Regions from separate parts of the Homo sapiens genome. Here region 1 is linked to region 2. The links come from fine-mapping of genetic effects on gene expression. A gene starts in region 2. The other region holds a variant in brackets. All regions are shown on one strand. Distances are from middle to middle. Region 1 overlaps VSTM2B-DT (VSTM2B divergent transcript). Region 2 holds the start of VSTM2B-DT (VSTM2B divergent transcript).

What was found.
Region 1: its variant is fine-mapped to the expression of VSTM2B-DT in cerebral cortex (GTEx, PIP 0.95).

Annotation. Positions count from the first base shown.
Region 1 is chr19:29,413,781-29,419,140 of GRCh38, forward strand. The region is part of intron 2 of VSTM2B-DT (VSTM2B divergent transcript); the gene reads right to left. Among named protein-coding and RNA genes, the nearest start is that of VSTM2B-DT, 110 kb to the right of the region's middle. RefSeq lists a silencer at 1,782-2,076 and an enhancer at 3,387-4,120. The variant G/A (reference allele first, on the strand shown) is at 2,028.
Region 2 is chr19:29,522,780-29,528,139 of GRCh38, forward strand. It overlaps VSTM2B-DT (VSTM2B divergent transcript), which reads right to left and starts at 2,971. Exons shown (of 10, transcript NR_040029.2): 1 at 2,645-2,971. It overlaps VSTM2B (V-set and transmembrane domain containing 2B), which reads left to right and starts at 3,215. Exons shown (of 5, transcript NM_001146339.2): 1 at 3,215-3,886; 2 at 4,432-4,616. The coding sequence starts at 3,805. The region is part of intron 1 of LOC124904683 (a long non-coding RNA gene); the gene reads right to left.

The DNA of each region.
Region 1 (5,360 bases), 110 kb before region 2:
CCCCACCCCTGCACGTGCCCACACAGGTGAAAGAAAGCCTGAGCAGCTGCCCCCAGCACAGGCTGGAAACCCTGGAGCTAGTCAGGAAGGCAGCCCCAGCAGAACTCTCCCCGGCCCCCAGTGGATGCCTCCAGGGAAACCCTCCCACCAGCCCCACACAGCCTCACAGAGGCACAGATCCTGGATTGTTTTAGCTCCATGCAGCCCAGCAGGGTTCTATCTAACACTTCCCTGAGTAATCATAACCTGCCAAGGTGATGGGGCATGTGCCCATCGGGGTGGCCGTGGCAGGCAGCGTGGTGAGCTCTGTGATGCAGAGTCAGGGATCTGAGCTCCACCTGCCCCTAGTCCTGGGCAGACCCCTGGACCAGCCTCCAAGTTCATCTGAGGCCTGAGTGCTGCAGAGGATGGTCCCAGGGGAGAGAGCCTCAGCAAGAAAGAAGGAGTCTGGCCGGGCACAGTGGCTCATGCCTATAATCCTGGCACTTTGGGAGGCCAAAGCAGGTGAATCACTTGAGGCCAGGAGTTCGAGACCAGCCTGGCCAACATGGTGAAACCCAGTCTCTACAAAAAACAGAAAAATTCACCAGGCATGGTAGCACATGCTTATAATCTCAGCTACTCAGGAGGCTGAGGCATGAGAGTCTCTTGAACCTGGGAGGTGGAGGTTGCAGTGAGCCGAGATGGCGCCGCTACACTCCAGCCTGGAAAAAAAGAAAGGAAAAAAGAAGGAGTTGTCTTCTCCTCCCACCCATCTCTGCTTCTAAAACTGCCCATAGCTTGTCTCATTTGAAAACACTTCCTGGAGAATCATCCCTCAATTTTCATTAATTATGAATGTAACTTTCCTCTTACTAAATTCAACTTTCTTTTTTCCAGTTGCTGTAAAGTCTCATTCCTCAGAGCCATCCAGGGTGCTCTCCTGGGCACAGTCACCTCTGTCTGGAATGCCTTTCCCTACTTTTCTATCCTGCAAACTCCTGCAAATCCTTCAAGACCTACCCCTTTTCCATGAAGTCTTCCATGATTTCCCTGAACAGTGTTAATGGCACCATCTTCTGGGCTTTCTGAAACCCAGGCTGTGTATTAATATCTCCATGGGTTCTGACCACAGATCAGCAAACTGTGGCTCAAAGGCCAAATCCAACTCACCTCTCATTTGGCAAATAAAGTTTAATTGAAACAGAGCCAAGCCTATTCATTTACTTATTGACTATGGCTACCATCAGACTACAATACTGATAGAGACGATATGGCCCAAAAAGCCAAAAATATGTGCTATCTAGTCCTTTACATAAGTATTTTTGTGCACTGAGCCCTGCCCGAGACTGTGCTCCTCTCTGGGGCTAGGACAAGCAAGAGGGCCGCTTGCCCTCTGGAAGAAAGCTTGCTGAATTAATGATTGGATGAATGAGTGAGTGATGGAGAAGCCCATGTTTTCAATTCAATGCACAATTCACTGGGCCAGTGTTTCCAGAGGGCCCCGCGGAACTCTGCATGGACCACCGCATGCATCAGGGTTTCAGTGTATACTGTCCGCCCTCCACGCCCATGCATTCTGCATCTGCAGATTCAAAAATATCAAAAATCTTTGGGAAAAATCAATAAAAGCAATACAAAAATTAAAAATAATACAATTTTTAAAATACCACGTAATACTTTGAACGTAGCATTTGCATTGTATTAGGTATCATAAGTAATCTAGAGATGATTTAAAGCACTTGACAAGATGTGTGTAGGCTATGTGCAAATGCAAGCCATTTTACATCACAGATTTGAGCATCCTTGGATTTGGGGAACCAAAGCAGGTCCTGGAACCTATGTCCTGTGGATGCCCAGGGATGACCAAAAGAAGGTGTTACAGGCTTCAAGGCGTATGGGCAACCTGATATGCTGGACAGCGCCCTGCACCACATCTCAGCTCATCCTTTTGCTCCAGCAGTTGCAGGAGAAACCAGAAGGAGGTGCTGGCAGTGCCTCTGTGGCAATCCACGTGGCTTTCTCTGCTTTTGCCTCTGGGATACCCC[G/A]GATACCCAGGAAGCCACTCAGCCATCTGGTGCATATCCACCCTAGGAAGTGCAGGGGAGTTAAAATCCACAGCGACTCCAGTGGGCAATTCTGATGCATGTTCTACACGCTGCCCCAGAGGGTCTCCAGTCACCCACCATGGTCTCCCTCCACCCCTCTTCACCTTTCCTGAGGGTGCACTCCTGCTTCCCGGGAACATATCCCCCAAATTAACTATCTACACACAAGCCATTGTCTCAGGCTCTGCTTCGGCTCGGGGTATGGGATATCAGTCTCCAGCACCTGGGTTTAACCTGGTCTAAACCTTACGGCGGGACTTGTCAGCATCTTCTGTATCTTTAATACTCTGTCAATCTCCAGCAAGGACATCTGGTAAATCTGTTTCCTGGGGCTGCAGCAACAAAGTGCCACACGCCAGGTGGCTTACAACAGCAATTCATCCTCTCGCAGTTCTGGAGCCAAGAAGTCCAAGATCAAGGCGTCCACAGGTCCACGCTCCCTCTGAAAGCTCTAAGGGAGGGAGGCCCTCTCTGACACTTGTCAATCTCCCTCTCATTCCTCTTCTGACACCACTAATTGGATTTGTGCCCCCCCAATCCAGAATGATCTCATCTGCAGATCATTTATTTAATTACATTTGCAAAAACCTTATTTCCAAGAAAGGTCCTATTTATAAGTACCAGGAGTTGGGACTTCGAAATTCTTCTGGAGGAACACTAGTCTGCACAGGACGTTCAGTGAGTGGCATTTCTTACACTTCTTTGATGGTAAAACTTTTTTATCCACCAGAGTACCTCTCAGGACTGGTGCTCTTCAGGAAAATGTGTGTTCACCAGTATTCCCCAAGAGGACGAAGGCCACCTCTGTCCTGTCCAATGCTGCAGCCCAGGACCTGGCGTGGTACCTGTCATAGACACTGTGCCAGCAAGCAGGCTGGGAGCAAGCTGCCCAGACAGGGAGAAGCTGGGAGAGAAATCTCAGCACAGGAGCAAGAGGGACACCCAGGAGGCTCATCCATGGTCCCTTGAGAGCTCCTGGGCTGCCTATCTGGAGCTCCAGAGAGCGGGCTGGACTGAGAGCTGAGCCAGCCCCGGGCTGGCCTCCCCGCTTCCCTGCGGGCAGAGCCTCCTCCAGCCACAGCCTGGCTGCTGGCACCAGTGCCTTCCTGCCTCGGGGAATGCCTGGTTAGCCCTGACTGGGAATTCAATGGGGGCCTGCACCAAGCCCTCCACTCCATTAAGCTCCCCACTCCACCAAGCCCTCTACTCAACCAAGCCCTCCACTCCACTTCCTGAACACTCAGAGAGTCTGATGGGGACAAACCAGGTGCTCTGAGGCACCCTTGGCAGACAGGCATGAAGGATTAGAAACCTCTCCTAAGGTACACTCACACCTAGCCAGACACACCTCTCTGTGGGGCCAGACTGTTCTTGAAGCAGCCCTCTAGGGGCGCTTGCAGAGGGAGTGGGGCACTGTCCACACCTCTCCCAACCCGAGGAGCTCCCAATCCTTGCCTTCTGGGTAGGTATCAGCACAACTTCAACCTGTGGGAGGCCCCAGTTCTCCATTAACGCACTAGGACCACCTTCCAAAGGCCAGAAGCCAGTGCCGCTGGCACTTGGCTTGTGTTTCTCTTGAGGTTTGGAATGAAGCTGTCCATGAACTTTTAAAATGGCTGCTGGGCAGTGAGCCCCCAGGCTGCAGGTGCTGGGCCTTCTAGAGCTCCGAAACCTCCGCGTCAGGGGCCAACCCCTTCAGCAAGTTGCTTCTGCAGCAGTGAGTAACACACCTGCACACGGACCAGCTTCCTCCCAGGGCCCTTCCTATGGAGGCCACTCCAGAATCCCTTCTCCTCGTCTGACCCTCTGGACCCTGGACTTCCACTGCAGCCTCCCCCAATTTCTGTGGCCTCCAAAAAGCAAACCCTCCAAAGAGAGGTGCCCCCACTCTAACAATACACTGAGTTGGACAAGGCAGTGCTGGTGAGCCCAAGACCCTCCCCAGGGGGTGCGGTCCCTGCAGGGTCTCATTAGGTGTTAGTGGTGTCCCCGGGGAGGGTCTCACCCTCCCCTCGCCTCCTCCAGCCGCTGACCAGCACAGGGCCCCACATACAGGAGCTTAGAGCGGGTTTGCTGACTCATTGGAAGGCAACCAGCAGGTAGGGTTTCCAGGCTCTGCCTCAGGAGGCAGCCTGAGATGGACCTACCAGTCATCTTCATGGGCAGAGCAGAAGTGCAGAGGAAGCAGGCATTTGTATTTGATCAGGTTTTTATTCCTGGCTCAGCCTGCAAACAGTAAACATTTCATTGCTTGTCTCACAATTACATTAAAAGGTAGATAAACCCCTTCTAGCTTACATTTGGCATTTCAGCCTCTAATCCAACAAATCGCCCTTTATCCCCTCTTTCATACGCACGTGCGCACACAGTCGGGGCTCTGTGACCGGCAGGGAGCTCCCGCCTCCCATCTTCAGCAGAGCAGCCCGGCTCCCGGCTTCAGGGCCACACACAGCAGGGCCCCAGCTCTGGCCAGGCTCTTACTTGCAGGACTTCTCAGGACCTTCGTATCCTATAGCAGCTTTTCCTAAATGCCCTGGATTGTAAAAGGCCCAGCCCACATGAGTCAGTAAAGGAGGAGACAAGTAGGGCCCCATCTGCTGCAGCCAGGACCGGTGGCGCCCATTGTGTCATGTCTGTCCCACCCTCGTGAGCAGCAGAGCCAGAGCTGAGCACAGCCTGGGGTCGTGTCACCAGGTCCAGGTGCTCCCCAGGGAGGTCTGGGGCTGGGGAAAGCCCTGAGCCACTGTGGAGGGGAGGGGCCCGGGCTGGAAGCAGAACATCTTCTTTCTGAACCCGCTGGGGCCTGCAGCACTGTGTGAGCTCAACCCAGCTCTCAACTGCCTCTGGGCCTTCTCTCGCATCTCCAGGTACACAAGCACAGCATGGATCACATCTGGGGCCGCATCCAGCCACTTGATTCCTTGGGAAGCAACCCCACAGTCCTTCAAGCACACTCCCTGTTCCCAGGAGAAGCTGCACATGGTGAGGCCACCATAGCCTGCTGGTGGCAGCCTGTTGGCCCTGACCCATACCAGGCTGCCCGTGCCAGGCAGCCCATGCCAGCTCAGGGCTCCCTTCTCCCTGCCCTACAGCTCACAAACCCAGGCCTTGATTCTCTTCCCCTAAAGGCAAGGACCCTCTCTTCCCAGTGCCTCTCCCTCTGCCCTTCCTGTGTCTGGCCTTCCCCAGAATACCAGTTCAAAGCCAGGGAAATCTAGGCTCCTGTGGCCACATGTGCCAGAGGCGACATACGCCCAGCTTTGGGGGCCTATG
Region 2 (5,360 bases):
GGTTCAAGACCAGCCTAGGCAACATAGCAACACCCCATCTCTACAAAAAAAATATATATATATTAGCAAGGCATGGTGGGCTAATCCTCCTGGTGTCAGCATGATAACTCTGGAGGCTGAGGTGCTTGAGCTCAGGACGTTGAGGTGCAGTGAGCTAAGATCGTGCCACTGCACTCCAGCCTGGACAACAGAAAAAGACCGTGTCAAAAAAAAAAAAAAAAAAAACCATAGTGAAGGTGGGTCAGCTGCTCTCATCACAGTCTACAAGGCAGGGCAGAAAACAGATAGACCAAGCTGAACAGACAGGAAAGAGACTACAAGTCTAGCTCAGGCTGCTCCTTGCTCCCATCAGTCAAGGGTAGGGCCTTGCTCTCCACACCAACTCGAGGCATCAGGACCAGGGGCTCACCTGGAGGAGGGAAGAGCTTAGTGTTTTGGTTAAGATCCAGGACCCCAGAGTAAGACAGGCTTTGGGTTGATGCGTCACTCAGCCACTTACTAACTATGTGACCTTGGGCAAGTTCCGTAAGCTTCTGAGCTTCAACCATAAAATGGAGTGAAATCACCATGTCTACCCCTGGAGTTGTGATTGAGGTAAAATGAGCTCATTCATTCATTCCACAAGTATTTACTGAGCTCCTACTCTGTGCCCGACCCTGTTGTAGGCGCTAGAGATACATCAGTGAACAAGGCAGGCACAGTCTTAGAGACCTGCAACAAGACACTCAATAAATAAGGATGTGGTCCCATGTGTTGGAAGATGGCTGGCGAAATGGAAAAAATAAAGGAAGCAGAGTGAGGGCCTGGGAGTGCTGGGTGGTGGGAGGAGAGGCAGTGTAGACTGCAGTGTTAAATATGGTGGCCCAGGTGGGCCTCATGGAGAAGGTGACTGCTTGACAAAAACCAGAGCACAACGGAGTTAGCCAAGCAAGTATCTGTGGGAGAAGCATGTCAACCAGATGGTGCGGCTGGTGCAAGGGCCCTGGGGTAGAAGCATGCCCAGTGTGCTGCATTGTAGGAAGGAGAACAGTGTGGCTAGGGGAGTGTGAGCTATGGAGAAGACAGAAAAGATGAGAAGATGAAGGAAAAGGGTGAGCAGGAAGCAGAAAGGCAGATGGTTTGACCTTGGCAGCCACTGCAAGGCCACTGGTGTTTATGCCAAGTGAAATGGGAGCCACTGTGGGGTTTTTCAGCAGTGGAAGAGGGATCTGATTTCCCTGAGAAGGATCTCTTTGTCATGTTGAGAACTGATGCCTAGAAAGTGTCTAGTACATGGAAAGCATGTGAAAACATGTATCTGTCGCTCTTAGAGTAATACCAACTCATGCAGTGGGCAAGAAACACCCAACCCCACAAGGCGGTACAGGGATAAATTACTTCCAGATAATTCCCTCTAGCTACAGGGATTCTCCCACGGGCATCGCTGGTCTCCAGCATTAGCCTCTGCTTGGATCTGGCATCAGGAAAGGAGACTGCTACCTCTCCAGGTGGGCCACTGCGCAGTGGGCTAGCTCTTTCTTCAGAACCCTGCTTGGAATCAGTCCCCAAATGAGCCTGCTTTCCTGGAACCCCGCTGTGGTCCTGAATCTGCATAGAGCGGTGCAAGTCTGCCCTCTCCCTTCAGAAGCTGAGGACAGCAATGGGGCCTGGCAGGGTCTTACATTCGGGGGTCCAAAGTGGTTTCTAAGGGCACATGGGATTTCCTAGGAAAAGCTCCTGCCATGACAGAAGGAGCTGGCAACTGCCTCTGTGGAGCCCCTAGAGAGGAACTTGAGGGAAAGGAGGAAAGTCCTATAGGACCCCCTTCTTCCCTTTGCCCCCAGCAGGAGACCTTAGAAAACAAGGGCTTGATAGATGAGCCACAGTGAGCCAGGGGGTGGGAGTGACTCCTGGGCCATAGACGAGGAAACTGAAAGGCAGGCACTGGAGGCAAGAAGGGCTGGCCCCGGGCACCCGCTGGCGAGGACAGCCTTGGAGAGGGCCTGCAGCTCCTCCCCTCTGAGCTGTGCTGCGCTGGCCGCCTGGACCAGGGTGGCTGCTGGAGAGTGTTTTCCCTCTGGGTTTCCTTCTCCTTGGCTCCCAGGGAATCCTCTGGCGGTGCCTCCGGGAGGCTGGTAGCCGGGGAAGCAGGCACGTGAATCCACCGGGCTGCCCCACCCCAACCTGAGGTCAGAGCTGAGGCGTAGGGGCCGGGGTAGGGGCAGAGGTGCCGAAACGCACTAGCTGGGGACTCCCGGGGGAAGGAGATAGGAGAGACCCAAGGCGAGCCTTAGGACTCGCCCCTATGACTATGACTACGCGCTGCGTCCGAACCACATGTCCACCCCGCATTTGCCTTCGGGGACCAGACCGCGCTCCCTCAGATGGCTGGGGAGGGAGCAGACTCCGGGTGAAGGCTGGGGGAGGTACCGGGATGCCGAGTACGCCAGAGCAGGCGGGGGATGGGTTCCGGCTTCCTGCCGCCTCGGCATCTCGCTTTGCACCGGGCAAAGAAGGGGCCACGACCGGCGAAGAGCGCGTGGAGACACAGGGACCCGCGATCCAGGGGCAGGAACCCCGCCCCCTCCCGGAAACCTCCCGGGCCCTGAGTCGTGCCCGGCGCTCCCCACCCCACCCCACCCCCGCCGCCCCTGCCGTCACTCACGGCCGCTGCGGGCTGGCTAGCGTGTGCGCTCTCCGCGCCGCAGGCACCTGCTCGCTGGGCGCTGTGCGCTCACTTCTCCCTCGCGCACTGCAGACTCCCGGCGCTGCCGCCGCCACCCAGCGTAGTCTCCGGCTGGGCACAGCGTTCCGCCCTTCTCGCGGCCCCGGGCGCCCACCCATCCGTCATGGCCCAGGCCTGGGCCAAACAGCGGGGCAGCTGGTTGCCCAAACTGGGGTAAGGAGTTGAGGGCTGGGAGCTGCAGAGAGGACCGAGGGACACACGGGGAGCAGGGATGAGCGGCCGTCTCGAGCCGTGCAGACTGGGAAGAAGCCAGGGAGAGTTTGGGTGGGAGGACTCCCAACCCAAGCGGGTGCGGGGCGGGGCTGTACTCCAACCAGAAAGACGGTGGTCCCTCCGAGCGACCCCCGAGGAGAGAGGGGGAGCGCTCTGGGGCGGGGGCGGGGCGGGCTGTGGCAGGAGAGGGGAGGGCGGGGGCGATGCAGCGGTGGAGGCGGCTTGGCGCCCAGCCACTGACCGCCCCCTCCCTTCCCCTCCCCTCCCCCTCTCCCCGCCTCTCTCCGGCTCCGGGTCCGCCACGCCGGACCCGCTCTCCCCGCGCTGCGCTGGGTCGGACGCCAGGTCTGCGCGCCGCGGCTGAGCGCCCACTCGCCCTGCGGAAAGAGCCGCGGAGGAACCGGCGGGGGCGGCTGCGGGAGCCGAAGGAGGTGGCAATCGGGAGCAGAACCAGAAGGAGACAGGGAGGCAGAAGCTCGCGGCTCCGTGGCACGCACTCCCTCGGCCAGGGATGGGTCCCGGCGCGGCCCAGCCCCTGCCCGGCCCGCCGGGCAGAGACTGAACCGCGGATCCCCACCGTCCTGTGGACGACCGGACAGAGAGAGGCACTGACCGATCGCCAGCAGCCTCCCGGTGGGACCGCGTCTCCTGCACACCCCGCGCAGCGCCCCCCGCCGGAGCCGCACCGGGCAAGCCGGCGAGGGAGCGGGGCTGATTGGCGGCCGCCGGCGGCCAGGGGAGGGGGCGCCGCGCGGGGCCATGGCAGGCTCGGAGGCGTCCTAGCCCGAGCCGGAGCCGATCCGAGCCCACGCGGCCGCCGCCTCTCCGCTCCCGGGCCCCCGCCGCCACCGCGCCCCCCGCGGGAGATGGAACAGCGGAACCGGCTCGGTGCCCTCGGATACCTGCCGCCTCTGCTGCTGCATGCCCTGCTGCTCTTCGTGGCCGACGGTGAGCGCGGGAACTTTGCTGCCGCTGTGGACTCGGGGGGGTCTTTGCTGGGGCCGCCACCGAGAAGAAGAAGAAAGAGAACGAACCGGGAAGCTTCGCGGTCTCCAGCAATCCCGCTGTGCAGCCTGGGCCCGGAGGGGTAGGGAGAGGCGAGCGGCGAAGGGTCGCCGCAGCAGCAGCGCCGCGCCCGAGTCGTTCCCAGTCCCGCCGGGGCCCCGGCTGCGGAAAGGATGCCTGCGGGGAGCGGGAGTAGGCGCGCCCCAGCCAGGCTCTGGCGGTGCGGCCAGGGGCGGGGGAGAAGCACGAGTCGCCCCTGCCGCCCCGCCCCATCCGGAGGGAAGCAGTAGGCAGCCGATGGCCGGTCCCTGCCTCGGCCCTGCAGCCGCTTCCCCGAACTTTGCTAGCCCCTCCGGCCGTGCGCCAGGGAGCAGCTGCGGGGTGGGGGGCACAAGGCCAGCCAGCCAGAGACCGACTGCCTCGCTTTAGGTTGCCCCAGGCCCCCGACCTACAGCTGGTCACGCCTCTCTCTCTCTCCCCACCCCCAGCTGCATTCACAGAAGTCCCCAAAGATGTGACAGTACGGGAGGGAGACGACATCGAAATGCCCTGCGCGTTCCGGGCCAGCGGAGCCACCTCGTATTCGCTGGAGATTCAGTGGTGGTACCTCAAGGAGCCACCCCGGGAGCTGCTGCACGAGCTGGCGCTCAGCGTGCCGGGCGCCCGGAGCAAGGTAACCCGCCGCCCACGCGGTACCGGCGCGCGCCCGGCTCGCGCCCGGGGCGGCGAAGGCTAACCCAGGGAGGGAAGCAGCGGGCTTCACTCGCGCAGGGCGCCGCCCTGTGGCGCAGCCCATCTTCCACCTTCGCATCCCAAAGCATCTTCAAAGTCAGCAGTGGTTACCCCCAAACCTGTCAATTATTTTGACAGCATCGCTGTTCCCACCACCTCCCAGAACTCCATTCACGCCCAGCCCCTAAAGAGCCACACCTCAGCCTGGTCGCTTGCTCGTGCTCGCTGGCTGCGGCCCTCTGATGGGTGCTGGGTAGTGAAGGAAGCCCCCTTGGTCCCATCAGGCTCTCCCCGCCCTCTGCCACTTTGAGGACCCCAGGGCTCCCACGGCTGCGTTCCAGAGGCCACCAGAAAACCGAGTACCGGAAAGCCGGCAGGACCTCCAGCCCTCAGGGGCACAGAGGGGCCACTTCTCTGTGGCCGAAAACAGGCCCACGCTGCCTGTCTGCCTCAAAACCCACACTCTCTTACACACTCTAGTGTGCTCGCGTGCACACACACCTACACACACACCTACACCTACACACACCTACATTCTCCCAGGGTCCCACCCAGAGTTACTCCCACTGAGCCTCCCGCTGGGTGCTGTCCAGACACAGCGGCCCTCCCTCCAGTTCTTCACGGCTCCCAGTGAGCTGGGGGAGGATTTTGAGCCACGCGGCAGGGCCTAAGGATGCCCAGAGGG